4 linked regions of the Homo sapiens genome follow. The protein of the gene in region 4 interacts with the protein of the main gene of each other region in a biochemical or structural test. Each region holds a gene or a part of one and is shown on either strand. Other genes may lie near its edges. The genes, in order: CDC123, PEX5, MARK4 and USP9X.

Region 1 (2,941 bases), on a different chromosome or scaffold from region 4:
ATGTCCTGAGATTTTCACAGTGTTCTCTTGTGAGCATTTTATATCTTTTAAAAAATAGTTTTGGGCCAGACGTAGTGGCTCACACCTGTAATCCCAGCACTTTGGGAGGCCGAGGCTGGTGGATCACCTGAGGTCAGGAGTTCGAGACCAGCCTGGCCAACATGGTGAAACCCCGTCTCTACTAAAAATACAAAAAATTAGCTGGGCATGGTGGCAGATGCCTGTAATCCCAGCTACTTGGGAGGCTGAGGCAGGAGAATTGCTTGAACCTGGAAGGCGGATGTTGCAGCAGTGAGCCAAGATCACGCCATTGCACTCCAGCCTGGGTGACAGAGCGGGACTCCGTCTCAAAAAAAAAACAGGCCAGGTGCGGTGGCTCACACCTGTAATCCCAGTACTTTGGGAGGCTGAGGCAGGTGGATCACCTGAGGTTGGGAGTTCGAGACCATCCTGATCAACGTGGAGAAACCCCGTCTCTACTAAAAGTAAAAAAATTAGCCAGGCATGGTGGTGCATGCCTGTAATCCCAGCCACTCGGGAGGCTGAGGCAGGAGAATCGCTTGAACCTGGGAGGTGGAGGTTGCGATGAGCTGAGATTGCTCCATTGCATCCAGCCTGGGCAACAAGAGTAAAACTTCGTCTAAAAAAAAAAAATTAGTTTTGGCAGCTGGGCATGGTGGTTCATGCCTGTAATCCCAGCACTTTGGGAGGCCGAGGCAGGCAGATCACCTGAGGTCAGGAGTTTGAGACCAGCCTGGCCAACATAGTGAAATCCCTATCTCTACTAAAAATACAAAAATTAGCCGGACGTGGTGACGCGCGCCTGTAGTCCCAGCTACTTGGGAAGCTGAGGTGGGAGAATCACTTGAACCTGGGAGGCAGAGGTTGCAGTGAGCAACAGAGACCTGGGCAACAGAGATCGTGCCCCTGCACTCCAGTCTGAGAACAGAGCGAGACTTTGCCTCAAAAAAAAAAAAAAAAATAGTTTGGCATGGGTGCAACAGCCCACCTAGCCTATAATCTTAACACTTTGGGAGGCCAAGGCAGGAGGATTGCTTCAGCTCAGGAGTTCAAGACCAGCCTGGGCAACATACTGAGATATTTTCTGTACTAAAATTTAAAAAACTCAGCTGGGCGTGGTGGCGCATGCCTATAGTCCCAGCTACTTGGGAGGCTGAAGTGCGAGGTTCACCTGAGCCCAGGAGGTCGAGGCTGCAGTGAGCCACTGCACTCCAGCTGGAATTACAGACGTGAGCCACCGTGCCCGGCTCATTTTAACTTAAGCATCTTCCTTTCTCCTCATCAAGTACAGAGGAAAACATGGAGTTGAAATTGTTTTGCTAGGTTCTTTTTTAGTTCACAGAATAGGCCTAAAAATAAATGATTGATATTCTTTCTCCTTTTTCTTCTTTGTACAGGATTCCCCAGCTTTCCGTTGCACAAACAGTGAAGTGACAGTCCAGCCCAGCCCCTATTTGAGTTACCGGCTACCCAAGGACTTTGTAGACCTCTCTACTGGGGAGGACGCTCACAAGCTAATAGACTTCCTTAAGCTGGTAAAGTCTATGTGCATTTAGTATGCTGGCCATCTTTTCAAATAGACCTTCAAATTGGCTTTTATATAATATTTCATTGGAATCCTGTATCACCTAGACTTTGATGGTTATGAATGGAACCAAGTTACTGAGTTAGAGCATTTTCTAATTAAATATGAAATAGGAGCTGAAGGCATAATTTATTGATTAGAATGACAGAAAATGTTTTTATGCTGTACATGCCTTTTGAACATTTTTCAAAATACTTGTAACTTTGAAGAAAGTGTGTATATTGTTAGAAGGCTGTAAGGAGAGCAGGTCTCTGCTCTGGTGGTGATTTTACTCAAGAGGGGATGTGAATATTTATATTTTTGTGTGGATTTCTGTGTAGGAGTTTTTGTATGTATGGAAGAAAGAGAAGAAAATACTCAAATACCTGAGGATAATTTGCTCAGGAGTCAAAGTGATAAACTAGTTTAATGAATTAAAGCATGGTTTTCCATGACAATTTTTAATTACATCCTTTGCCAAGACCTCTAGAAAATTACACCTGCTGAGCAGATATCCCAAGGAGCATGTGCTATTTTAACATCCCCTTGGTTTTCTTTGACAGAAGAGAAATCAGCAGGAGGACGACTGATGAGCGTACTGGAACTGGAGAAGAGGAGGCCCCGCCCCACCGCTCCGGGAGCTGCTCATCAGCCGCAACTTCCTGCCGACCCTGATGCGGGTGGGCCGAGCAGTGTGGACATCAGCCACTTTTTATATTCATGTACATTCACCTGGGGAAAAAAACGGAGGGACTTTGCTACTTGTAAAAATAACATAATAAATAGATCTTAAACATAGGAAAACCATACTGTTCTGATAATAAAATGCTTTCTATGAAATACGTTGCTTTTCTACCGAGTCATTATTTTATTTATTTATTTTAATTTTAATTTTTTGAGACAGTCTCGCTGTGTCGCCCATGCTGGAGTGCACTGGTGCGATCTCGGCTCACTGCAACCTCCACCTCCTGGTTCAAGCGATTCTCCTGCCTCAGGCTCCCAAGTAGCTGGGATTACAGGTGCATGCCACCACACCCAGCTGAGTTTTATATTTTTAGTAGAGGTAGGGTCTCACCGTGTTGGCCAGGCTGGTCTGGAACTCCTGATCCTCAAGTGATTTGCCCACCTTGGCCTCCCAAAGTGCTGGGATTATAGGTGTGAGCCACCACGCCCGCCCTGTTTTGTTTAGGGACAGTCTTGTTCTGTTGCCCAGTCTGGGGTGCAGTGGCACAATCACAGCTCACTGCAGCCTCAATCTCCTGGACTCAGGCAGTCCTGCCTCAGCCTCCTGAGTAACTGGGACTACAGGTGCACACCACCACGCCCAGCTGATTTTTGTATTTTTTTGTAGAGATG
Region 2 (7,039 bases), on a different chromosome or scaffold from region 4:
CATTATTATTGTGAAAATGATAAAGAATCAAAAACACTTAAATCTTACCAGCAAAATTCTAAGTCATGATCAGATGCAAATTATTTGTCACAAATGAAAATTAAATAATTACAATGGGGGGTTTAAGAAGAAAGACATATTATAGTAGATTTGAGATAAATGTATAGAAAGTATATTTATATTGAAAACAAGTGTGTTTTTGGACATCTCTGCATAATATAAAAACTAAGAAGGCAGAAAATGACGCTAGTCCAGTGATCAGCAAACTTTTTCTGCGAAGGGCCAGATAATAAATATTTCAGGCTTCGTGGATCTGCTGCAACTACTCACCTCTACTGTTGTAGTGCGAAAGCAGCCAGACATAAGTAAACAAATGAGCACGGCTGTCTTCCAATAACATTTTATTTATGGACACTAAAATTTGAATTTTATATAATTTTCACTTGTCACAAAGTATTACTCTTTTGATTTTCTCCAACCATTTAAAAATGTTAAAACCATCCTCAGCTAGTGGATCACTAAAAACATAAAGATTTATCCCACAAGCCAGTGTGCTGGCCCTTGCCCTAGACTATTACAGTTCAATAAAATAAATCCTTCTGCATTCAACCTCAACTATTGTTCATCATTAATACGTGTTTTAAGCCACTCTACAGAAAACAGAGATTACTGTCATCTATAATGCAGTTTCCTAATAAAAGTAATTCCTGCCTCTCAGAGCCATTGAGAACATCAAATGGGAATCTTCACCAACGCCTTACCAAAAAGCTTAAGATACTATCTGTAAATAGCTATTATCCTCACTGCTCTAGATACTTCCTTAAGATATGATGGCCTGTATATGACAGCCAGAAGTGATGCGAATGCTCTTCAGGTGTCTTCATTAGATAATACAACAACTCAATGCCACCATCTTGCAACCACAGGATTCTCTAAGTTTCCTCTCATCCATATTATCTACCCTCCTTGAAGTCTCATCAATTGCTGATCAAAGAGGAATTTTCCAAAATTAGAATATTTGCATAGATGATGGAAAAAGAGTACTCTGGGGGATCCCTCAACAACCCACAGAACACAGGATAAGCTTGGCTTCACTGTTACATCCTGAAAAGCCAAACCCAAGTCATTAATTTTATCTGATACACGGTCTGGTCTGCTCCAAAATCTCATAGGATCAAACTGCAGAAATGATCACTACAAAGAGTTTGTCCCATCACATACTTCTCTTTTATCATAATAGTATATTAATATCTGCCTGAGCTGCAATGTAAATTGTCTCTGAAAATATAAGGGCTATCAATAAACAAACAGTGCATTCAAAGAGATCCATGAATTTATGTAACAATCAAGAGTCAAGTCCTTTGTTTTTAAAAAGTTCTATTGACATGGAATTCAATATTAGCTTAAAGCCAGATACTGTCTAATTGCTTACTACATCACTTTTTGAGGAACATTAATGCAAGTATTTCTAGTCCTAATTTTGCAATATCCCAAAGTATCAATGATATCAAGTAGGGCTCAAGAATCTACAAACATACTTTTAAAGTTTTTAATTAAAAAATGTATTCTGGATATGACACCAAAAGCTCATATCCCAAAAATCATTGCAAAGACTAATGTCAAGAAACTTTCTCCCTATGTTTTCTTCTAGGCATTTTACGGTTTTGGGTACTGCATTTGGGTCTTTAAGCCATTTTGGATTAAGTTTTGTACATAGTGTGAGGTAACGGTTCAGTTTCACTCTTTTGCACATGGATATGCAGTTTCTCCAATACCATTTATCGAAAAGACTATCCTTTCCACATTTCTATTCTTGGAACCTGATCAAATGTGATTTTTTTTCTAAAAAAAAATTTGCTTTCTAATTTGTCACATTGTTCTATGTGTCTGAAAAAAAAAAATGTATTCTGGCCAGCATGTCATAAATACGAGAGTAATAAATGATAAAAGAAAATGCTGCTCATACAAAACTAGTATTATGTCTATATGTATGAAAAGCATGGACATTTTTACATAAATGTACAACTTTCCATTTATAAGTTGATGGGGCCTATGTGACTTATCAAATTGTTAATACAAAATAATAACAAAAGTGTTATCTATATTTCCTTCAGTTCTTCCTTATCAAAATTATATACAATGAACTCATAGTCTAGTGAAATACATGGCAAGGTCCCAGCTGTCTTTTCCCTTATATCACACAGGATAGTTAGAAAAATCCAGATCAGACTGGAATAATAAGCAAAATCATATTTTTCCTAATACTGTTCTTCACTGGCTCTCAAACTCTAGCCTTTTTCTGAACTGCATCTTCCCATCTTTGCATAGCTCCCTTATTACATCAAGATCCATCTCCAGCACCCTGGTTTGCATCTCAGGCCCTGGTTCCAGCCCCACAATACTTTCCCAACCAGATCTGAACTGAGAAAAAGACATCACTACTCACATCCCCAGTTCCTGTTTTGCCTTTTTTCAAAACCAAGTGATTCTTTCCCCTCTTCATGTTTCAACTCAGGAGCTCAGTTATTAAACACATCCCCAAATATCCTACAACCCACAGGTAGATTTGTTTTTCAGTAAGACCCCAGAAGTAACATATGCTTCTAAGTCAACAGCACATGCTATAGGCAAAATGCAATCATCTTTCATACTACTAAGAAATTTCCCTAATATTTAAGTTATCTAATATAAATTCTTTGAAAACCCTAAATTAGGGCAAGTGGCTACTACCTATAAAAGATAAGAACTTAAAATGAATATGTGAGTTTAAAAAGTAAACAGATATTAAGATGTGGAGGCAAAGGGATAGTCTGTCCACTAACACTCCCCACCAAAGGAGTCAGCAGTCTTCTCAAAAAGCTCCCAATCTGACCTCCAAGCAGAGCTACTTCCTCTGTGCTTTTAATGCAGCAAGCATGTGCAAACCTCCTTCACAGGTGTTATGTACTGGACTGTCGTTATTGACAAAGATAGTCTCATTAACATCTATATCCCAAGAATAAAGTTTATACTCAATCACTGAAGAGGAAGGGCAAGGGAATTATTCAGACTTCTTTTCGTGGAAAGGGACTCAAGAAAATACTTAAAAGCACCCTTCAAATTCAGGATTAAAGGAAAGACGTTAAAAAGAAGGAAGTTCTGGAACCTGAAAAACTAAGAGTTTTTACCTCACCTTATCATAGGTAGCTGACGTAAGGTCATCATAGTCAGAAAGCCAGGGGTGGGCCTCAGCATCCCGTTTTGCCATCTCCTCCAACTCTGCCTGCAACTTGTCCCAGAAATCGACATCAGACTGTAAGGAAGGGAAAGCAGATAGAAAAAGGAGATCCATCATGACCACCCCACCCCACACTCAGCTCTGCTGGGATTCTCTAAGGCAGCAGTTCTTGAATTTCAATATGTTTAAGAATCATCTGAATAAGTTTTTTAAAATGCAAATGGCCAGATGCTATCCCCAGATACTGATTTAGTAGTCTGGGGTGATGGCCAGAAATGTAATGTAGTGCAGTGCAGTGCAGTGCAGTGCAGTGCAGTGCAGTGCATAGTTTAGTTTAGTTTTTTGTTTGAGACAGAGTTTCACTCTCGTTGCCCAGGCTAGAGTGCAATGGCGTGATCTCATCTCGTTGCAACCTCCACCTCCCAGTTTCAAACATTTCTCCTGCCTCAGCCTCCCAAGTAGCTGGGATTACAGGCATGCGCCAACACACCACGCTAATTTTGTATTTTTAGTAGAGACATGGGGTTTCTCCATGTTGTTCAGACTGGTCTCGAACTCCTAACCTCAGGTGATCCACCCACCTCGGGCTCCCAAAGTGCTGAGATTACAGGCATGAGCCACCATGCCTGGCCCAGAAATCTGCATTTTTCAACAGCACCCACCCCATCCCCAAGCAACTCTGACACAGATGATCCAGGTCCACTATGAAATACAATTTGCATCATCTTTGATGTTCATACACCCACTCACTCCAAGGAGTGTTTTCTTTTGGGGTGTCTGCTCCTGCACTATCTGCTCTCACCTCTATAGCTGACTTGGCTCGTTCAAACTCCATATCAAGGGCAGATGTGTTTACTGGTCTTGTGAACTGGTCAACCCAGGCATCTGATGTACCCTGCGACAAAAAAGGATGGTCAGTACCACTACCACCAACTTTCTATCCATCAGACGCACACTAAATACCCACTAACCACCACCAACCTGGGTACTTCTGAGAAAATCATTCTCAGAATCTCTTTCCCACCCACTTGGGACCTGGATGCTATCAAGACAAGCTGGTCTTATCCTTCCCCATCTGGGACCACTGACCACTGAACCCATGGCCTGGGGCATCAGCTGGCTCTGAAGTGGGACTGGAAAGTGACAATGTCCTACCTGCTGCTGTATAAACTCTGCTGCCCACTGTTCTGCCTGAGCTCGGCCCGACCCTGCACCGGACTCCAGGGACACCTGCCCTTCGCCAATCTGCCGCACGAATTTCAGGAACTGGGGCACAGAGACACACACAGGCCACTTGGGAAAGGACTTCCAGGTGTGCACTCTCAACCATGCCCAAGAGGACCCTGTACTCACCCCTCCCCTGACCATCTCTAGCTGCAGACAAGATATGCTAAAGACCCTAAAAGAGGTAGAGAGCAAAAAGAAAGGGATTTCTGGCTCTAAAGACTTGCAAAGGCATCAGAAAAAAGAGTTAGTAGGCAAGGAGATGAGGGAATGAACACTAGAAGGAAGAGGCAGGATCTTAAGTCTCTGTTCTATAGACAGGAACGAAGAGACCTAAGATCTCTTCTCCTTCTCTTTAAACTAAACTGGGGTAAGAAAAGCAAGATTCTTGCCTTCCAAAACCAGCTCTGCTGGGCAAAGCAGCAGAGGGATGTGGCTCACCTCAGAATTAGCCAATTTGGGGTCATCCACTTTGGCCACAAAGTCACTGGCCGTGTGCTGCAGATCCTCCTCAGGATGATATTCATCATACCTGGAACGGGTAAGAACTAATTTTACACATTAGTCTGCCATCACCCTCCCCATGCTACTCCCCACTCCTAGCCCATGACAATGACAGTTCCTGTGAGGGAACTCCATTCTCCTGTTGAGAACCTACAAACTCCAATTTGCATTATAGAAGGACATTTGGGCAGGAGTGTGAAAGTACTAGCTACATCCTTCTAGCTCTCCCTTTCCCAAACATATCTTTGCATACAGATGGGATAGTAGCAGGCTCAAAATTAAGAAGGGAACAAGGTAAAATTATGAACTTTAAGATGAAGTTATGAACGTCATATAGGATAGTTAGGATTCTTGAAAAATATATATATATTTACCTATATACATATATTTTAAAAGTCTGAAAACTCCCTTCCTCCCAAATATAGCTGATATGTATATATACGTGTATGTGTGTATGTATATACATGTGTATGTGTATGTGTGTATACATGTATGTCTATGTGTGTGTATACATGTGTACGCATGTATCTACATGTTTACATATGTATACGTGTGTATATACATGTATGTGCACATGTATGTGTATGTATGCGTGTGTACATATGTGTATGTGTGTATATATGTGTGTGCGTGTGTGTGTGTGCACGCACACATGCATGCGCTTTTGGTTTTTTAAAGACAAGGTCTTACTGTGTTCCTCGGGCTAGACTTGACCTCCTGGGCCCAAGCAATCCTCCCACCTCAGCTTCCTGAGTACAGGCACACAACCACTGTGTCCTTGACTACATTTCAACCATAAATTCACAGGAGTAATAACCCAAGGGGAAATCTTAAAGAATAAAGTAAGCCCTCTCCCTCTCCCTCTCCCTCTCCCTACGGTCTCTCTCCCCCTCTCTTTCCACGGTCTCCCTCTGATGCCGAGCCGAAGCTGGACTGTACTGCTGCCATCTCGGCTCCCTGCAACCTCCCTGCCTGATTCTCCTGCTTCAGCCTGCCGAGTGCCTGCAATTGCAGGCACGCGCCGCCATGCCTGACTGGTTTTCGTATTTTTTTGGTGGAGACGGGGTTTCGCTGTGTTGGCCGGGCTGGTCTCCAGCTCCTAACCGCGAGTGATCCGCCAGCCTCGGCCTCCCGAGGTGCCGGGATTGCAGACGGAGTCTCGTTCACTCAGTGCTCAATGGTGCCCAGGCTGGAGTGCAGTGGCGTGATCTCGGCTCGCTACAACCTCCACCTCCCAGCCGCCTGCCTTGGCCTCCCAAAGTGCCGAGATTGCAGCCTCTGCCTGGCCGCCACCCCATCTGGGAAGTGAGGAGCGTCTCTGCCTGGCCGCCCATCGTCTGGGATGTGAGGAGCCCCTCTGCCTGGCTGCCCAGTCTGGAAAGTGAGGAGCGTCTCTGCCCGGCCGCCATCCCATCTAGGAAGTGAGGAGCGCCTCTTCCCAGCCGCCATCCCATCGAGGAAGTGAGGAGCGTCTCTGCCCGACCACCCATCGTCTGAGATGTGAGGAGCGCCTCTGCCCCGCCGCCCCGTCTGGGATGTGAGGAGCGCCTCTGCCTGGCCGCGACCCCGTCTGGGAGGTGAGGAGCGTCTCTGCCCGGCCGCCCCGTCTGAGAAGTGAGGAGACCCTCTGCCCGGCAGCCGCCCCGTCTGGGAAGTGAGGAGCGTCTCCGCCCGGCAGCCACCCCGTCCGGGAGGGAGGTGGGGGTCAGCCCCCCGCCCGGCCAGCCGCCCCGTCCGGGAGGGAGGTGCGGGTCAGCCCCCCGCCTGGCCAGCCGCCCCGTCCGGGAGGGAGGCGGGGGGTCAGCCCCCCGCCCGGCCAGCCGCCCCGTCCAGGAGGGAGGTGGGGGTCAGCCCCCCGCCCGGCCAGCCGCCCCGTCCGGGAGGGAGGTGGGGGTCAGCCCCCTGCCCGGCCAGCCGCCCCGTCCGGGAGGGAGGTGGGGGTCAGCCCCCCGCCCGGCCAGCCGCCCCGTCCAGAAGGTGAGGGGCGCCTCTGCCCGGCCGCCCCTACTGGGAAGTGAGGAGCCCCTCTGCCTGGCCACCACCCCGTCTGGGAGGTGTACCCAATAGCTCATTGAGAACGGGCCATGATGACAA
Region 3 (7,039 bases), on a different chromosome or scaffold from region 4:
ATAAAAAGAGTTTGACACCAGCCTGGGCAACATTTCAAGACCACATCTCTACAAAAAATATTTTTTAAATTAGCCTGGCATTGTGGTGCATGCCTGTAGTCCCAGCTACTTGGGATGCTGAGGTGGGAGAATTGCTTGAGCCCAGGAGTTCCAGGCTACAGCGAACTATGATCACGCCACTGCACTCCAGCTTCGGTGACAGAACAAGAGCCTGTCTCTTTAAAAAAAAAAAAAGCATCTGCTTGCAGCCCGTCTGCATATGTTAAGCCCTTCACTGGAGCTTGGCATCTGGCCACAGCATCATGCTTGGGAGCTGCGCTGGAGGTGGCAGTGGTGGCCTGATGGTTTCTTCTCCCCCATCACGTGATAGGCAGTGTGGCATGGTGGTCACACAGCACAGGCTCCAGAGCCAAGGCTCTGCCACTTTCTGGCTGTGCAATCCTGGGGCAAGTGACCAAACCCCTCCAGGCCTCAACCTCCTCGTCTGGAAAGTGGGCGTTATAACCGGGCTTCGCGGCGTTGTGAAAATGGATGTAATATGCATAAAGCACTTAGAACACTGCCTGCTAAGGGGTAAGTGTCCTGAAAGTGATCCAAATTAAATATTAATAGCCCTTTATGATCTGCAGAGGCTCCCCAGGCATGGGCATCTTTCAGCCCTTTTAGGAGAATGCTGCAGCAGAGGACTCTGTCCTAAAGGAGTCCTGTTCACCCCCAACGCTCAATTCATTCCTACCTGTTTTCTGCCTCCCTTCGTTTTTTTTGTTGTCTGTTTGTTTTTTGAGACAAGGTCTCAGTCACCCAGGCTGGAGGGCAGTGGTGCAGTCACAGCTCACTGCAGCCTCAACCTCCCGGGCTCAAGCAATCCTCCTGCTTCAGCCTCCTGAGTAGCTGGGACCACAGGCATGTGCCACCACACCTGGCTAATTTTTGTATTTTTTGTAGAGACAGAGTCTCGCTGTGTTGCCCAGGCTGGTCTCAAACTCACGGGCTCAAGCGGTCTTCCCACCTTGGCCTCCCGAAGTGCTGGGATTATAGACATAAGCCACCACGCCTGGCCTATTGCGGTTTTTTATTCAGATGGAAAGAGCTCCCCCTGGTCTGCCAAGCTATGGATTTATCTTATTTTTCACAGCTTTGGTAGGGCCTCTCATAAAAGGCCCTTAAAGAGAAAGCCAGCAGATAAATCCATGAATGGCCTTGAGGAGTGTGTCTCTTTGGACAGCAGGCATGGCTGGGGGAGGGGAGAGACGAGAAGGCAGGAGAGGCAGTAGGGTCTCCTTCCCCTTGAGTGAATCTCATATTTACATACCGCTCTCTGGCTCTGGGCCAGGCATGTGGTAAGCATTTTACAGATTTTTTTTTTTTTTTTTTTTTGAGATGGAGTCTTGCTCTGCCGCCCAGGCTGGAGTGCAGTGGCGCAGTCTCGGCTCACTGCAACCTCCGCCTCCTGGGTTCAAGTGATTCTCCTGCCTCAGCCTCCCGCGTAGCTGGGATTACAGGGGTCTGCTACCACACCCAGCTAATTTTTGTATTTTTTTTTTTTTTAGTAGAGATGGGGTTTCGCCATGTTGGCCTGGCTGGTTTCGATCTCCTGACCTCAGGCGATCTGCCTGCCTCACCCTCCCAAAGTGCTGGAATTACAGGCGTGAGCCACCGCGCCCAGCCACATTTTTACGGATATTAACTCACCTGTACCCTGGTAGCAAGCATGTGAAGTGGGTCCTGTAATCCCTTTCACGGATAAGGAGACCGAGGCCCCAGTGGCTGACTCACTTACCTACCTCCCTCTTACCTGACTTAGAGAATAAACTTCCTTTTTTTTCTGAGACAGAATCTCGCCCTGTCACCCAGGCTGGAGTGCAGTGGCGTGATCTCAACTCACTGCAACCTCCACCTCCTAAGAGTTTAAGTGATTCTCGTGCCTCAGCCTCCCAAGTAGCTAGGACTACAGGCAGCCACCACCACACCCAGCTAATTTTTGTATTTTTAGTGGAGATGGGGTTTCACCATGTTAGCCAGGCTGGTCTCGAACTCCTGACCTCAGGCGATCTGCCTGTCTCGGCCTCCCAAAGTGCTGGGATTACAGGTGTGAGCCACCGTGCCTGGCCAGATAATAAACTTTCTCTGCAAGTTTTCCTCTGAATGAAAAGTTATGTAGCTTAAATTTTTTTTTTTTTTTTTTTGTAGAGACAGGCTGGTTGTTCAGGCTGGTCTTGAACTCCTGGGTTCAAGCTATCCTCCTCCCTCGGCCTCCCAACGTGTTTGGATTACAGGTGTGCACCACCATGCTCAGGTCATTTTTTATTTTTTGTAGAGATGAGGTCTCCCTGTGTTGCCCAGGCTGTTCTTGAACTCCTGGGCTCAAGCGATCCTCCGGTCTTGGCCTCTACGCCTGGCCAAGAATTTTTTTTTTTAAATTGCAGCGTCCATATGATGTTCCCATTTTATGGACAGGGAACTGAGGTCAGGAGAAAGGAATGGGGTTTTGCTTACCTCGTCAAGGACTGGGACTCAGAGCTTCTGTCACTTCTATCAAAGGGGTTGGGACAAAGGTTGTGTGTGTGTGTGTGTGTGTGTGTGTGTGTGTGTGTGTGTGTGTGTAATAGGTGGGGGGCGGGGCAGACCCCCTCCTCCAGTAACCCCATCCCTGCAGGAGCTGCGGGAGCGAGTACTCAGAGGGAAGTACCGGGTCCCTTTCTACATGTCAACAGACTGTGAGAGCATCCTGCGGAGATTTTTGGTGCTGAACCCAGCTAAACGCTGTACTCTCGAGGTGAGCCCAGCCTCACAGCCAGCGGGAGCCCTTCTAGTCTCCTGACTCCCCTAAACTCTGCCTGCCCCCACCCACAAAAGCCTTCTTGACACACTTTTCCTCTCCTGTGCCCACCGAAGATCTGCTGCTGGTGAGTGGGGGTAGACAGGCCGTCCAGGGAAAAGCTCCCAGGCCTGTCCTGACGCCACCCCCCCGACAGGCTCACCCACTCCCTGCCTTGCCAGTAATTAGCTAATGAGCTCCTAGGATGATTACAGGGTGCCAGGGACCCAGATGATGCGGAGGAGGGAGGGTGGCATCAGGAGGCTCCGGCAGGGGACGTGGGGGAGAGAGAGGCCCAGGAGGCGCTATCTCTTAGGAAGCCCGCAATTCTGGGTGTTAGGCCTCGGAGGTTTGGGGCAGGGCAGAAGCTGTATGATTTCTGGTTCCTTCTGACACCTGTCTTCCCCCTTCCCTGCTCCTGATGCCTGCAGCAAATCATGAAAGACAAATGGATCAACATCGGCTATGAGGGTGAGGAGTTGAAGCCATACACAGAGCCCGAGGAGGACTTCGGGGACACCAAGAGAATTGGTGAGGGTCAGGGAGAGCCATCCTGTCACCCAGGATGGAGTGCAGTGGTGCAATCTCGGCTCACTGCAACCTCCGCCTCCCAGAATCAAGAGATTCTTGTGCCTCAGCCTCCCAAGTAGCTGGGACCACAGGCGCCTGCCGCCATGCCCGGCTAATTTTTGTTATTTTTAGTAGAGACAGGGTTTTGCCATGTTGGCCATGCTGGTCTCAAACTCCTGACCTCAGGTGATCTGCCTGCCTCAGCTTCCCAAATTGCCAGGATCACAGGTGTGAGCCACTGTACCCGGCCCATGTTCGCTTTGATATTAAGACATAAAGAGAGACCAGGCGAGGTGGTTCATGCTGGTAATCCCAGCACTTTGGGAGGTCGAGGTAGAAGAATCACTTGAGCCCAGGAGTTGGAGACCAGCCTGGCCAACATAGGGAGACCCTGTCTGTACAAAAAAATAAAAATAAAAAATTAGCCAGTTGTGGTTGTGTGCACCTGTAGTCTCAGCTACTCAGCAAGCTGAGGTAGGAGGATCCCTTGAGCCCAACAATTTGAGGCTACAGTGAGCTATGATCATGCCACTGCACTCCAGGCGACAGGGTGAGACCGTGTCTCAAAAAAAGAAAAAAAGGTCAGGCACAGTGGCTCACGCCTATAATCTGAGCACTTTGGGAGGCTGAGGCTGACAGATCACCTGAGGTCAGGAGTTCGAGACCAGCCTGGCCAACATGATGAAACCTCGTCTCTACTAAGAATACAAAAATTAGATGAGTGTGGTGGCAGGCACCCGTAATCCCAGCTCCTCTGGAGGCTGAGGCACGAGAATTGCTTGAATCCAGGAGGCAGAGGTTGCAGTGAGCTGAGATTGCACCACTGTACTCCACCCTGGGCGACAAGCAAAATTCCATCTAAAATAACAATAATTACGGTTTTTACCATTAAATGGCAAAAACCGGAATTACTTTTGTATCAACCTAATTATATTAGTAGGTTGAACACAACAAAAAGTTGAACCATATGAAATTGCCATTTTTTTGGTTTAAAATTGTCAGTACCACCAATTTTGTATGGTTTAACCTAATAGTGATGATTTATTCTGCCACATAACTAAAATGAATAGAGTATGCAGCCTTCAGGCACAGTTGTATCCAGGTGCTCAGAGACAGTTGTTGGGAATGTTTTCTGTGGTAGCTTTTTCCCAGGCTGCTCTCCAGGAGGCAAGCAGATCTGGGTCACATGCCTTCAATGAAGCAGTCAGTGTGGCTTTGGGTGTAGAACACACTAATTAGCCAGACCTGGGTTATCCGCCTGCCTTAGGGTTGGAGCAGGGGAGCCATCCACGTGATCTGAGCGGAAAGAATGTTCTTTCAAAGGAAATCAATGTGCTGTTGGGAAGGGAGGATGGGTACTGGACAGGTCAAAGAGCAGACACCAGTGAATGACACAGAAATGAGTGGAAGTGGGCCAGGTGCAGTGGCTTATGCCTGTAATCCCAGCACTTTGGGAGGCCCAGGTGGGTGGATTGCTTGTGCCCAGGAGTTTCAAACCAGCCTGGACAACATAGCAAAACCCTGTCTCTACTGAAAATACAAAAACTGAGGTGGGAGGATCAGCAGAGCCTGGGGAGGCCGAGGCTGCAGTGAGCTGTGACCGTGCCACTGCACTCCAGCCTGGGTGACAGAGTGACACCCTGTCTCAAAAAAAAAGAGAAATGGATGGAAGTTAAAGTTTCTGGGAGTCTGAAACTTCTCTCCATCCCCCCCTCCCAGAGGTGATGGTGGGTATGGGCTACACACGGGAAGAAATCAAAGAGTCCTTGACCAGCCAGAAGTACAACGAAGTGACCGCCACCTACCTCCTGCTGGGCAGGAAGACTGAGGTCAGGGGGCGCCAGGGGCCCTTGGGGACGCGTGATGCCTGGGTGGAGGGACTTGGGGTGCAGAAGAGCCTCATCTGTCATCCTCTCGCAGGAGGGTGGGGACCGGGGCGCCCCAGGGCTGGCCCTGGCACGGGTGCGGGCGCCCAGCGACACCACCAACGGAACAAGTTCCAGCAAAGGCACCAGCCACAGCAAAGGGCAGCGGAGTTCCTCTTCCACCTACCACCGCCAGCGCAGGCATAGCGATTTCTGTGAGTATCAACCCCACGCCCTCACGCACCCTCCTTCTCCCCAAGGCCCAGACTTACAGTTACGTCAGGGTTCTCTGATTGGCAAGCAACAGAAACCCACTGGAGCTAACCTCAGAGAGGGAGGAATGTCTTATAAAGACACAGGGCATTGCATGGAACTTGGAGGCAGGAATGCACAGCCAGGCTCAGGAAGGGATTAAAACCGGAAAAGCAGCCAGACCCAGAGCAGACACTCTCTGTCTTGCTTCCTCTCTGCTTGTGTGGTTTTTCCTTTGTCTCTCACTTATCTCATCCTATCTTTTTTCCTGATGTCCCAGCTCCCCGATTTTTTTTTTTGAGATGGAGTCTCACTCTGTGCCTCAGGCTGTAGTGCAGTGGTGTGATCTTGGCTGATGGCAACCTCTGCTGCACAGGTTCAAGCGATTCTTCTGCCTTAGGCTCCCGAGTAGCTGGGATTACAGGCGCCTGCCATAACCCCCCGGCTAATTTTTGTATTTTCAGTAGAGATGGGGTTTCACCATGTTGGCCAAGCTGGTCTTGAACTCCTGACCTCGTGATCCACCCTCGGCCTCCCAAAGTGCTGGCATTACAGGTGTGAGCCACTGTGCCCAGCCTTTTCTTTTCTTTTCTTTCTTTTTTTTTTTGAGACAGAGTCTCACTCTGTATCCCAGGCTGGAGTGCAGTGTCGTGATCTTGGCTCACTGCAACCTCCACCTCTTGGGTTCAAGCGATTCTTGTGCCTCAGCCTCCTGAGTAGCCGGGATTACAGGCACCTGCCACCACACCTGGCTAATTTTTGTATTTTTAGTAGAGACAGGGTTTCACCATGTTGGCCAGGCTGCTCTTATACTCCTGACCTCATGATCCACCCACCTCAGCCTCCCAAGGTACTGGGATTACAGGTGTGAGCCACTGCACCCAGCCCCCAATTTCTTACCTTAGAGACCAGTCCAAATGGCAGCTGGAATCTCTGGTCCAGGATGAAGCTCTGATATCAGAGTCAAGTTTGAATTAATCCATTGTAACTGGGGCACAGGAGGACACGTTGTACAAAGTGGCTGCTGAGAGTCTGCCCTCTGGCTTTGCCTCCACACTGAAGTAAAGGAGGCTCTGGAAGAGAGCTGGGCGGACAGCTGATTATACCCCACATTCTGCAACTGACAGACATCTCATCTGCTGCAGAAAATGAATACAGAGTCTGAGTTTAAATCTGGGCCAGGCACGGTGGCTCATGTCTGTAATCCCTTGGGAGGCCGAGGTGAGTGGATCACCTGAGGTTGGGAGTTTGAGACCGGCCTGGCCAACATGGTGAAACCCTGTCTCTACTAAAAACACAAAATTAGCTGGGCGTGTTGGTGCGTGCCTATAATCCCAGCTACTCGGGAGGCTGAAGCAGGAGAATTGCTTGAAACTGGGAGGCGGAGGTTGCAGTGAGCCGAGATCATGCCATTGCACACCAGCCTGGGCAACAGAGAGACCTCATCTCAAAAAAATTAAAAAAAAAAAAAAAAGGATACACACCACCATCAGCACCCATTAGGCATGGAGACTTCTGAGAGGTCCCTTCACCC
Region 4 (7,039 bases):
GAGAAACTGAAATGAAATCCTGTGTTATTGGCAAATCAGCCAAATTGTACTATTGCCTGTCAAAATGCTTTGCCTGCCATGTATTCTCATTATTAGAATTCAAATACTGTACCTCCAAATTATGTCACTGAATCCTAACTTGCCTTCAGAGATGCAGTTTTATAAAAGGTATTGATGTGTAGCAAATTACCCTCAACTACAGCAGTCATAAACTTAGTTATAACTTTTTTAAAGTTTGCATTACTCTCGAGTGTCCTGAATTCACTTCAGGTAATGTGTTTAAATTACATATATGGCAGAATTATTTTGGACTGGTAATAAGTTAGTAAGAGCACAGACTCTGGAGTCACACTGCTCCGCAGCTATATGACCTCGGCAAGCTGTGTAACTCTGTGCCAATTTTCTCACCTGTTAAAAGTTTTAATAATAAGGCCAGGCGCAGTGGCTCATGCCTGTAATCCCAGCACTTTGGGAGGCCGAGGCAGGCGGATCACGAGGTCAGGAGATTGAGACCATCCTGGCTAACACGGTGAAACCCCGTCTCTACTAAAAATACAAAAAATTAGCTGGGCGTGGTGGCACGTGCCTGTAGTTGGGCTGAGGCAGGAGAGAGGCGTGAACCTGGGAGGCAGGACTTGAAGTAAGCCGAGATGGCGCCACTGCACTCCAGCCCAGGCCGTCTCAAAAAAAATAAATAAATAAAAAATAAAGGTTTAATAATAGTACCTATTGTCTAATGTTAGATTAAATGACTAAAAGACATTATTGAGTGGCACATAGTAGGCACTCAGTATATATTAGCTATTAGATTTTAGATGTTTTTATTTTATATCTGGTTCTCTTTCAGAATTCATAATGCACTGAAAGGAATTCCAGATGACCGAGATGGGCTGTTTGACACAATCCAGCGCTCTAAGAATCACTATCAAAAAAGAGCATACCAGTGTATAAAATGTATGGTAGCTCTATTTAGTAACTGTCCTGTTGCTTACCAAATCCTGCAGGTGAGGATTTTTTTCTTATAATTTTGTAGAAATCTTAATCAGAATTAAGGATTCTGTTTTAAAAGAAGAGAATCATGAGAACTTGGGGTTGTCATTTTAAGTTAACTTTGAAGTATTCCAAATCCTCTTATCTATATGGTTTTATTTTCTTTTGCAGGGCAATGGAGATCTTAAAAGAAAGTGGACCTGGGCAGTGGAATGGCTTGGAGATGAACTTGAAAGAAGACCATATACTGGCAATCCTCAGTACACTTACAACAATTGGTCTCCCCCAGTGCAAAGCAATGAAACGTCCAATGGTTATTTCTTGGAGAGATCACATAGTGCTAGGATGACACTTGCAAAAGCTTGTGAACTCTGTCCAGAGGAGGTAAAAAAAGCCACCAGTGTGCAGCAGATAGAAATGGAAGAGAGCAAAGTAATTCTTTATTTTATAGGCCAGTGTTTATGTATTAATGATATTATTAAAAGATTATGTTGAAGTTTTGGGTTTTGAAAAATGTTTATTCGGCTGGGCATGGTGGCTCACGCCTGTAATCCCAACACTTTGGGAGGCCGAGGCAGGCGGATCACCTGAGGTCAGGAGTTCAAGACCAGCCTGGCCAACAAGGTGAAATCCCATCTCCACTAAAAATAGAAAAATTAGTCGGGCGTGGTGGCAGGCGCCTGTAATCTCAGCTACTTGGGAGGCTGAGGCTGGAGAATGACTTGAACCCAGGAGGCACAGATTGCAGTGAGCGGAGATCGTGCCAGTGGGCTCCAGCTTGGGTGACAAGAGTGAAACTCCATCTCAAAAAAAGAAAAGAAAAGAATGTTTATTCTATGTCATTTTAAGCTAATGAAGGGAGCTTTCTTTTGGAGAAATTTCTGTGAAATTGCCTGAAATGTAGTAGTTCTGAGAGAATGCAAATCAGGTTTTTTGTTTTGTTTTTTTTTTTTTTGTTTTTTCCCCAAGTTCTTTATCTGCAGTAAAAGAAAAGTTGCTAATGGGTCAGTTTTGTAGATTTTTAAAATTTATTTCAAATAGAAAAAGTTAAAAGTAAACTTGAGTTTGCCTACGTAATTTTTTATCTTGAAATATTCAAAATTAGGAGCCAGATGACCAAGATGCTCCAGATGAACATGAGTCGCCTCCACCTGAAGATGCCCCATTGTACCCCCATTCACCTGGATCTCAGTATCAACAGGTAAACAGGAGTCAGTTTATGCTTTTATCCCCTAGAACTGGGTTTTATGCTTAATTTTAGAGGATGGCTCAATTGTTTGTTGTGACTACAAAGTAAGAAGTAGGATTATCTAGACTAGCTTTGGGAGCATGATCCAGAAGAGGGATGGTTTGGAGTGGGGGTCATGGTGTAACATGTTTGAACTTAACCACTGTAGGGTTTTCCTTGTCAAGAAGGTGTCCTTCTTGTGCTAGTAGTTAATAAAACTGTATGAGAATTTATATCAACATAAAATGATCATTGTTTAGTGCAAAGGATTGTGGTGACATTTCCGGTGAGGTAAAATCTTCACCTGGATTCCAAAAACATTATTAAGATATGGCAATGAAGTAAGAAGTCCTTGGTTACTTAGCCACAGGTTTCAGTGATGGTAAAAATCACTGGAAAAAAAAGGATTTGGGTAGATTTCCATAGGTGATTAAAGTAAATAAACTAGTAAATAGCAAAAGAAATGAGATGAAGAAACATTCTAAATGATAACTTTTTCTTTCTGAAACCAAAATGTGACTAAATCAGCTCTTGTGAGGCAGTGGTACTCAAACTTGCACAGGCGTGAGTCTCCCTGGAAGGGTTGCTCCAGCAGAGAGCTAGATGCTACCCTAAAGTGTCTTATTTCATAGGTCTTCAAGGGGCTGGAAAATGTACATTTCTAGCAAGTTCCCAAGTGATGCTGCTGGTGGTCCAGGAACCATACTTGGAGAAACATTTCAGGCATTCTTTCTTACATTTCACTGTGTACATAGAAGCAAACTGAATAGTTAGGAAGTACACATTCAGCGTACTTATTTTCATCTATAGAAAGTAAAGCCTGGCCAGGCGCGGTAGCTCATGCCTGTAATCCCAACACTTTGGAAGGCTGAGGCAGGTGGATCACCTGAGGTCAGGAGTTTGAGACCAGCCTGACCAACATGGAGAAGCCCTGTCTCTACTAAAAATACAAAATTAGCCGGGTATGGTGGTGGCGCATGCCTGTAATCCCAGCTACTCAGGAGGCTGAGGCAAGAGAATCTCTTGAACCCAGGAGGCAGAGGTGGTGGTGAGTCGAGATAGCACCATTGCACTCCAGCCTGGGCAACAAGAGCGAAACTCCCATCTCAAAAAAAAAAAAAAAAAAGTTAAGCCTAAAATCTTGGCTTGGCTGATGGAGCATGTACAGAAAAATGAGAGCACTGTAGGGTTCAGACATTTTAAAAGGTTAAGGAACCAAATCCACAAGGAAGGTTAACTTCCTTTGACCCTGAGAAAGCTCTTATGTTAATCATGCCTGGTTACTTTATCATCTTGAACATTGTTCTGTTTTTAATCAGCATTATTGTGAGTTCAGGGTTACTGCTCCTATATATCTTACATCATGGTTAGTCAATCGGATTTAGCATGTGGAAGAGTCAATAGATGCTCATAGATCATTCTCTGAAAATTTTTTACCAAGAGCAACAGTGGGTTAATCCTTTATTTGCCAGACTTGAGTCTAAATAATTTTTGGCACTAAAAATCACTTTGGCCAAAGATTTATGTGGACCTACACAATCACTGCTCTTATTCAGGGTTTTGGGGTTTGCATTTACACTACGTTTTTCAAGCCTTTTTTTGTTTTTGTTTTTGTTTTTGTTTTGCACTATAGTAGTCCAAGGGTATTTACAGAGTAAGTCCCAAGAATAAGAGTATACATTTCCAGAGACTTCAGACCATGATTTTGAAGTTGTTTTACTATGTGAAAAGTTTTAACATACAGATCTTTTCTCCTTTCCCAGAATAACCATGTGCATGGACAGCCATATACAGGCCCAGCAGCACATCACATGAACAACCCTCAGAGAACTGGCCAACGAGCACAAGAAAATTATGAAGGCAGTGAAGAAGTATCCCCACCTCAAACCAAGGATCAATGAAATGCACATAATTAACTGGTTCCATCAAGACTGTGCACCCAGGCCTTACAGTCCAACCTTTTTCTGTGTCTGGCTAATATTTAAAACTAGAAAAACTATTCCTAATCAACATGGAGTGGAGAGTTTATTCACTGTCTTATCTGCAGAAATTTGCTGTCAATATATAACCCGCCTGCAGTGGAAAGTGTATAGTGTTTTGTAATAAATGGCCTGATGCTAATGTGTAAATGGCAAAGGTGTATATAGTATATTAATGTTGACTGTTAATTCTTAAGCAAGAAACTTTTTTCTTGATGAGACTCACAGATCTACACAAACTACAAAAGTTAATTTTCTTGTTACACCCACTGCACTCTGCAACCAGTGTTGCCTGCCTCATGGCAGTTGGATCAGCTCCTTTACAAAAAAGAAAAAAAAAAAACCAACAGCAACAAAACAGAGCCCATCCATGTCAGCCACACCAATAGTTTCATGTTAATTCTTTGCCACTGGAGTCAATTTTGCTATGAGCAATGTAAGGCTGGTAACCTTTAAATTATTTGGTTGATGTGGAAAATTGGTGATGTAACACTGTTTCTAGATTTTTTTCATTGCCTTTTTATTCTGATATTAGGTTAATCACTTTGAAGCTATAGTTATGCTGTAACATTTAGCATGGCTTCACACCAAGTTAGTGTAGCCAATGAGGAAAAAGTTACCATAATGACAGCAGTTGTCCGAGAAGTGACAGCTGTATTACTCAGAGCTTTTACTTCTTACACCTAGAATATTAAAATATAAAACAAGGGGAGAAATGTGACAGTCTATTTTCAGTTGCACATATGTTCCTTATATATAATGTTTGACAGTTCAATCTCTGGGTGGAATAAAGAACACTTACGTATCAGTAATGGGAATTTTTAAAGATTTAAAACAAATATGCAAAAATTTGCTATGCCAAGATGCTGGAGCATAATATAAGACTGTATTTGGTGTGCTTGTTTTGTTTCTTTGGTAGAGTTTATTAGGTGAATCTTCTAAAACTTTCCTTCTGTTGGATCCCAGTGACGTGGAAGTCATCAGAACCCCACGGTACTTGGAGTACCTCTCTGCACCAAGATAGCTGGCTGATTTTCTGCTCAGTCACAATTTTACTTGAAAGCAAGAATTGTCCTAGCTCCTTTTCCATTATTCCAAAACGTTTAACGTTCAAAGCAGGGTCTCATTAAAAAAGAAACTACTGGTTGATATAATTGAGATATTACAATTTCAGAATAAACATTTGATTAAAAATAAGGAAATCCTCAGTTCATACTGTATTTAAAAGAGAATTGGTAACTTGAATGTGTGTAATTTTTTGGAACCTGTCTAAAAACCAAATACCCCTGCAAACAGATACAGCCCACCCTATTCTATTTAAATATTTTGCTGTTTTATTTTATAGAAATTATTTTGCTGAATTCACAAATAGAATTTGATTTAAGAAGAACTTTTTGTCCTGTGGTGTGTTTTTGGTTTTTTTTTTGGTTACTTTTTTTGTCCTTTTTTTTTTTTTTTAAAAGAGGACTGCATATTAAAATTCATTCTGTGCATAGCATGCCTAGGCATGACACTGATTCAGGATTTCAGTCACATCAAGTTTTTGTGCACAGAAAGATTTGACCTTTGGCCCTCTACTGAAGATTTTGAGAAATCAGGATGTTGACACTGTAAAAGTTTCCTAACATAATCTTGTACTTTTTGTATGTTTTTTATATACATGTATATTTAATGAGCACAAGCTTGGTTGTATTTTTTACAATTCAGTTAATAGGGAAATGTTTTGTCAAAAGGCTACACTTGGAACTGAACAAAGCAGAAACAAAATTGAGCATTGCATTATTTTGTGATTAAAAGGGGCAGGTATTTAAGATAAAGCTTTGGGTATCTTATTTGTAGTACTGTATAGTCAACCTGTGCTTCTAGGTGTTCCTGTAGGACATTTTGACACCGATACTTTGAGTGAAAGTCACACACGGTGTTTGCAATTCCAACTGATTTTTGTTTTGTTTTTATTTTTTTGTTGTTTTCTTCTTTGAGATGGAGTCTTGCTCTGTCACCCAGGCTGGAGTGCAGTGGCACAATCTTGGCTCACTGCAACGTCGCCTCCTGGGTTCAAGCGATTCTTCCGCCTCAGCCTCCCGAGTAGCTGGGATTAGAGGTGCCCACCACCACGCCCAGCTAATTTTTGTATTTTTGTAGAGACAGGGTTTCACCACGTTGGCCAGGCTGGTCTTGAACTCCTGACCTCAGGTGATCTGGCCGCCTCGGCCTCCCAAAGTGCTGGGATTGCAGGTGTGAGCCACCGCGCCTGGCCCCAGTTGATAGTTTTTTTAATTTAAAAGTTCCTCAATTCCAAGCTCTTTAAACGAGTGAAATAGGTTAACTTTATTTGGATGAGTTAGGTGTACCATCTCACCATCTGAGAGGAGATTTATATATTTCCTGCTGCTCCTTAACAAAATATGTAATGTACTTAAAAACTTTAACGACTTCCTAGTTGAGAGAAAACTTGACATATAAAAGGCTGTGAATTTTTCTGCTTGGAGGAAGAGCCCAACCTTGGTTGCTTTGAAGTTACAAGCCCCCTTGTGCCAGGTGAGGGGCTTGTGAGTCATTTTTGTCTCCATTTGAGGAAGAGTGGTATTCGTTGTGACTAGGAGCAAGGGAAAGTGGAGTTATTTTTGTTTGTGCAAATTATTTTCTATATTTAACTCAAGCATTAATGTATAACCAGAAATTTAAAGATGCATGTTGTTGCAAGAGCAACATAATGGTGATTTTGAGGTCTTTTTCTGAACACAAGTGGCACATTTTAAATTTCAAGTCTTCAAAGTGCCTAAGGATTATTTAGTTCTCCCTCAACTGATTTTTTGAGCCATATATTTCCTATTTTAAATGT

What was found.
Region 1: of the proteins of USP9X (region 4) and CDC123, one has a biochemical effect on the other in vitro, tested with the Homo sapiens proteins (one study listed by BioGRID).
Region 2: of the proteins of USP9X (region 4) and PEX5, one has a biochemical effect on the other in vitro, tested with the Homo sapiens proteins (one study listed by BioGRID).
Region 3: the proteins of USP9X (region 4) and MARK4 form a complex in vitro, tested with the Homo sapiens proteins (one study listed by BioGRID).

Annotation. Positions count from the first base shown.
Region 1 is NC_000010.11:12,248,163-12,251,103, forward strand, and holds the end of CDC123 (translation initiation factor eIF2 assembly protein), read left to right. Parts: intron 1-1,418; coding exon 1,419-1,556; intron 1,557-2,148; coding exon 2,149-2,175; 3' UTR 2,176-2,427; downstream 2,428-2,941. UniProt on the Homo sapiens protein: ATP-dependent protein-folding chaperone for the eIF2 complex. Binds to the gamma subunit of the eIF2 complex which allows the subunit to assemble with the alpha and beta subunits.
Region 2 is NC_000012.12:7,199,685-7,206,723, reverse strand, and holds part of PEX5 (peroxisomal biogenesis factor 5), read right to left. Parts: intron 4,974-7,039; coding exon 4,883-4,973; intron 4,484-4,882; coding exon 4,373-4,483; intron 4,113-4,372; coding exon 4,020-4,112; intron 3,293-4,019; coding exon 3,173-3,292; intron 1-3,172.
Region 3 is NC_000019.10:45,275,267-45,282,305, forward strand, and holds part of MARK4 (MAP/microtubule affinity-regulating kinase 4), read left to right. Parts: intron 1-2,656; coding exon 2,657-2,776; intron 2,777-3,249; coding exon 3,250-3,349; intron 3,350-5,107; coding exon 5,108-5,217; intron 5,218-5,308; coding exon 5,309-5,468; intron 5,469-7,039. UniProt on the Homo sapiens protein: Serine/threonine-protein kinase. Phosphorylates the microtubule-associated protein MAPT/TAU. Also phosphorylates the microtubule-associated proteins MAP2 and MAP4.
Region 4 is NC_000023.11:41,228,406-41,235,444, forward strand, and holds part of USP9X (ubiquitin carboxyl-terminal hydrolase 9X), read left to right. Parts: intron 1-847; coding exon 848-1,004; intron 1,005-1,161; coding exon 1,162-1,374; coding exon of another isoform or gene 1,375-1,422; intron 1,423-2,095; coding exon 2,096-2,191; intron 2,192-3,981; coding exon 3,982-4,119; 3' UTR 4,120-7,039.